Regions from separate parts of the Homo sapiens genome. Here region 1 is linked to region 2. The links come from fine-mapping of genetic effects on gene expression. Tissue or cell type: whole blood. Region 2 holds a variant in brackets; the other region holds the start of a gene. All regions are shown on one strand. Distances are from middle to middle.

Region 1 (2,755 bases), 120 kb after region 2:
GTGGGATCGTTGGGCATGGGGGGCTCCCTCTGACGCCGCTTAAACCCCCCAAAGAAGTGCGGGGGAGCGATTCTGACTTGATGCCCTCGGCGGGGCCTCTCTGCTGTCCTCTTTGGGGCCCCTTGCTCATCCTCACCTGCTTTCTGTCACCGAGCACTCCATCCTTGTCCTCCTGGCTGCCACCCACCTGTCACCCTAAGATAGATCCTCGGTCCCTTTCAACAGCATTTTGACCTTTGCGAGAGGACATTTGATTGACGGCCCTGCACGCTCTGCCACTCAGAGCCGGGCAGAGCTGCCGAGGGCTCCCACCTGTTAGGGATTAACTCCCATGTGCCAGCTCCGGAGCCGAGGCCGCGGCAGGGCTCGGCGCAACATGTGTCGCTGCCTGTTTTTCGGGGCGCTGGGGCTCTTTCAAAGGGCATGTGTGTGGGGATCACCCCAACTTTGAGGGGTAGCTCAGGCATCTCCACATGGGACACAGTCCGCCCTCTAAAAGTACTTTCCTTAGAGGGCACGGCTCCTGTCTGGATTCTTATTACAACCCTGGTGTGTGTGGTGGGGGGTACCCCTGGTTAAGGTGGAGGAAGCGGACCCAGTGGAAGAGGAAGGGGCATAGCGGGTTCCGCGAACATGAGTTGTAAGCGGCAGAGCCCGGGACTCCACAGCCAGGGTTTTCTGACTCGGAGACGCGGAGCTCTGTCTCCCATGTCAAAGAGAACCAGTCAGAAACGCACGGGTGGGCTGGGAGGGGGTGACAGCCTCTGGCTTACATCTGGGAACCAGTTATGTCGCCCGGGCATTTTATTTTCCTGAACAATAAGAGAAAGCATGATTTTCTTTCGCTAAGCCCGCATCCTCCGATGGATGTTCCGAAACCGCCAGGTGTGGGATCTGCGCCCCGACAGCCCCACCTTGGCCATCGGCCGCCTGAGGACGGCCAGCCATCGGGGCGATTCCCCCCACACATTGTGCCTGAATTCACCCTGCCTGGCGAGCCGGGCTCACGCAGGGAAAAAGCACCCGCGACCACAGGGTGTTGGTCATGGCGGCCAGGGGCACTGCGGCAGAATTTTTTCCTCCCTTCTTTGCTGCAATCTGGGTGCGGCTAGAGCAATTTGTCATAGAATCTGGGGGGCTCATTTTTCCGGCCAATCACTTTTAGAGAAATGAGCGCATTGCAGCAGAATGCGCTGACGTCAGAGACCACCCCTTCTGCGCCTCCATATAAACCCCACCCAGCCAGCCCCTAGCGCAGACGGCGGAGAGCAGAGAGGGAGCGCGCCTTGGCTCGCTGGCCTTGGCGGCGGCTCCTCAGGAGAGCTGGGGCGCCCACGAGAGGATCCCTCACCCGGTGAGTGGTTGGCCATCCTTGCCGCAAAGGATGTGCAAAAGGAAGACGGCATCCGCTTCTGGGATGGGCTCTGTCCTCCTGGACATGCCGAGAGCCTGCCTGATCCTGGGTCCTGCTGCTGGAGGCGGCCACTTCGCCTGGTCCCCGAGCGTCCGCAACAAAATTTGTCAGAAAGAAAATCTTGAGGCACATTTCCCTGGGGGGAAGTCAGGGCTCCTCTCTGGAGGGTCCAGTCCTTAAGGGTGGGCTGGGTGGTAGGGACTTCAGTTCAGAGGAGCGGGAGGAATCAGATGGAACTCCTCTTGGATTCGGGTATACGGCAGTCACTGGGGGGCGAACCCCGGATTTCCTGTATTAGAAGCCGCCTCTAGAATCGCGTTAATAGTGGGAGATATGGCGGCGATGCCTTCTGCGTGCCCCATGAATTAGGGGGGGAAGCACCCGAATAGAAGGGTCTCCCGGGCATATTTGCCTCGCCAGCTGTTGGCCAGGTTTTTGGTGGATCGTGGGCGGGAGGAGTGGAGGTTCCTCTTCGCGAGGTTTTCCGAATCCAAATACACAGGTTTAGTGCAGTGTGGACCCCAGGCAAAATGTGGAGTAAAATTTCTACCCGATATCATCTGGTTCTGCCCTGATCAGCCACTTTCACAGTGGAGAGAGATGGCGCCCAAGTGCAAACCTGCCAGTAGCCCCCTAGGATCAGTCCTTGCCGAAGGGGGGTCGTGGGATTGGGGGCACTGGGAGAATAGATGCAGGGGGTGGGTTGGGGAGGAGAGAAGGCCGTGTCCTTGGGTCTGGGAAGAGGGAGGAGAGAAATGCAGAAAAGGGGGTGTGTTGCTGGGGTCTGGACGCTGGGAGCTGGGGATGGGGTGCCGCGGGGGTCTTCAGAGCGTTGCGTGGTGGTCGCTCGAAAATCCTGACATGTTGCAGTCTTGGACTTTTGGTCAAATCGCCTTTTGCCATTTCCTTTGTCAGAGTCAAGCCCCCCCAGGCCGCCCCCTCCCACCCTGGGCCGGCGGGCCTGGTGGGGGCGCAGGCGGGTGGCTACGTGGCAGGTTTCTGGAAGGTTTCCTGGCTGGCCGCGAGAGGGCGCTGGCGGCACTGCGGAATTTTGGGGGGCGGGGTGGGGAGGGGAGGTGGCCTTTGTTCTCCTGATGGAGGGGGTCGGGCGCGGGATCTACTGGAGGATCCTGGATTCGTTTACCCAAGAGGGAACAGTTTTGAGACCCCCCGGATTCACTGCGGAGTGGCCGCAGAGGCCGGGGTCGGCCTTTGCGCCGTGGCTTCGGGTGTTGTGGAGGCGCACAGAGGCACGTTAGTTGATTTCCAGTGGTTTTTGGTTTCGGGGGTCTTAGGAAGGTGTGGCTCATTTGAGCAGGATGGAGAGAGAGGCTGTGACAA
Region 2 (2,755 bases):
TGGGCTTCCTCTGACGGCCATGGACCTGCTGGGCATAGACAGGAGGTGGGAGGGGCAGAGTTGGCCTCACCTGGCCCTCCAGGTGAGGGCTGGCGTCAGTTACCGGCCAAGGCCTCTGGGTGGCTCCTGCTGCCCTTGGCTGGGACACCACCCCTCTCCTGCCCCACACCCTCCCTGCTCCTTCTCAAATGTCCGCCTTCCTGGCAGCTGAGGGCCAGCGAGCAACTGGGCCAGGAGGGCCTGGAAACGCCTCTTCTCCTCATTCTACTCAAGATGGCTCTGGGGACAGAAAAGGACCCCTCTGTGCCCCAAATGTTGGGAACAAGGGCAGTGCTGGTAATAGGCTCACATTTGCACAAGGCGGGTCAAAGTTCCGGGCCGTGTGTCACCTGGGGGCTGGGCCAAAGGGGGCGCATCTTGCTGTGACATGGTGAAGGTGGGCAGGGTAGACCCGACGCTGAGGTAGGGGAGCGGGGCAGCGGGCTCCTCCTTCCTCACGTCCTATACTGTGCGGCGGCCCCTGACTTGGCCCCCTCTCCCTGGCTCTGTACTCCCAAACGTCACGTTGCGCCCCTCCCGTGCGCCCTCCAGCCAGGGTGGCCCGGCCTTGGCCGTTATGACGCCAGGGGAGCCGTTTGGCCGGCTCGGCCTCGGGTGATGGGAAGTTTCACTGCCCGGCCCTGTGGCCTGCGTTCTGTCTAACGCAGCTGTCTGTGCAGCTCCCGGGAGGGGTGAGAACAGCCAGCCACCTGGCTGAACTTGCTGGGAACCGACGTCAGGAGCAGGAGCTAGGCTGCAGTGGGCCTCACGGGGGCCTGGACGGGGAGAGCGGCTCCGTGGGCTCTGGGGCCTTCCCTCTCCACGCAATTGCGATCCCAGTGATGGGTGGGACAGAGATCCCCGTTGTCCCTGTCACCGCTCCCGCCTCCACTTGCCGGGCCTGAGGACAATTGAGGGGCTCTGCGAGCCCTGGGCGCCCCCCCAGCCCAACCCTCCTCCCTGGGGCCCCGCCGGCCCCCAGGCCTCCCCTGGCCTGGCCTTCCTTGCTGAGGGGGCGGGCCAGCGGGAGGAAGTCATCCGCTGTATTGTCGTCTTAATGCCTGTGCGATGAGGTGTGAAATTCTATGTTCCCAAAATTTGTTATCAGCCTCGCTCCTGTCCTCCGGAGCGGGCTGTGCGGAGGCAGCCGGGAGAACAGTCGGCTCCGAGGACAAGAGTGATGGGAGCGCCCCGGCCCCGCGGAATCCATCATTCCGGAGGGAACCTTCGGCAGGCTTCATTAGGCTCGAAACGATCATGAATATCCTCCCCTCACCTGTTCTCATTAATAATGGCTCCCCTCTTATCTTTTTTTTGCCACACGTATCATTCTTTTAAGAAACATACACAACCCAGGGAGAAAGCCCGGCGCCTGCCCGGGAGCCCAGCCGCAGCCTCTGCGTCCCGCCCCTCCTCCCCAACGCGCGCC[G/C]GCAGGGGGCGCGGCGGGCTCGCCACGGAGAGCGGGAGCTGGGGCCGCGCAGGGCGGGAGTCCTGCCCCTGGGTGGGGGGGACATGGGGCTGGGACTGCGGGCCGGGTAGACCACCAGGTGGGGAAAGTCAAGCCTTCTGGAACCTTCCAGCCCCGCGAAGCCTCCCCGATCCCCTCTGGCTGTGCTTTCCCCTGAGACAAATGCTGGCCTTCTCTAACCGTTTGCCTGTTTCGGTTCGTTTTATAATTTATTTTATTTTATTTTAATTAATTAATTTATTTATTTTTGAGATGGAGTCTCTCTCTTTCACCCAGGTTGGAGTGCAGTGGTGCAATCTTAACTCACTGCAACCTCCGCCTCCCGGGTTCAAGCGATTCTCCTGCCTCAATATCCCAAGTAGCTGGGATTACAGGTGCCGGCCACCATGTGTGGATAATTTTTGGGTTTTTAGTAGAGACGGGGTTTCCTCATGTTGGCCAGGCTGGTCTCAAACTCCTGACCTCAGGGGATCCACCTGCCTCGGCCTCCCAAAGTGCTGGGATTACATGCGTGAACCGCTGCGCCCCCGCCAGTTTCTTTTTATGTTAAAAGTGGTTTCAATTATAAAATAGATGGCCCTCTCTTTTGAAGTGCAAAGCAGGTAGTCCTCCCGTTGGGGTTCCCCAGCCACTCCCAAAGCCCAGCGCCAGTCAGTTTCTCCTGTGATCCCCGGAAGCGTCTAGGCATGTGCAAACAGATCAATAGGAAAGGGGATCTTGTATATATTCTTTTTCACTTTACATACATGAGTTCGTTTTACACACACTGTTCTGCAACTCCTTTTTGTTAACCTCACGATGTAGGAGATATTCCAAGCGTAATTTTCCCTGTTTTATACAAGAGCCTAGGGGAGTGAGGCTTTGGGGAGCTTCTCCTCCTGGCTTCTCCTCATGGCTTTCTTCCTCCTGCCCCTCCTCCACGTCCCCAGCCCCCCATTTCTGCCTTCCTTGCTGCTCCACTTGGCCTAGCCATGACCTCTGTGTGGTCGTCACTGTCTTGTGTTCTTGCTTCTGTCGTGGCCGCCAGAGTGACCGCACTGCAGCTTTTTAAAGCTCTGACCTTGTCTTTCGTCTTCTCAGAGCCTGTCTGAGGCTCCCCAAAGACATTGCCCAGCGGCCTGGCATTCAGGACCCCAGCTGGGCAGCCCTGCCGACCTTCGGCCTCCTCAGGGACAGCTGCTCCCCTCACTCTGCCGGGCCTTGGACTCGTCTCCCAGAATAGCCAGGCACACTGGCGCCCTAACCTTC

Evidence for each region. PIP is the estimated chance that this variant, and not a neighbour inherited with it, causes the effect.
Region 1: it holds the start of MEG3, and the variant in region 2 is fine-mapped to the expression of MEG3 in whole blood (TOPMed, PIP above 0.99).

Annotation. Positions count from the first base shown.
Region 1 is chr14:100,824,864-100,827,618 of GRCh38, forward strand. MEG3 (maternally expressed 3) reads left to right here and starts at 1,255. Exons shown (of 10, transcript NR_190993.1): 1 at 1,255-1,354.
Region 2 is chr14:100,708,407-100,711,161 of GRCh38, forward strand. LOC105370669 (a long non-coding RNA gene) reads left to right here and starts at 661. Exons shown (of 2, transcript XR_944211.1): 1 at 661-731; 2 at 1,148-1,345. The variant G/C (reference allele first, on the strand shown) is at 1,469.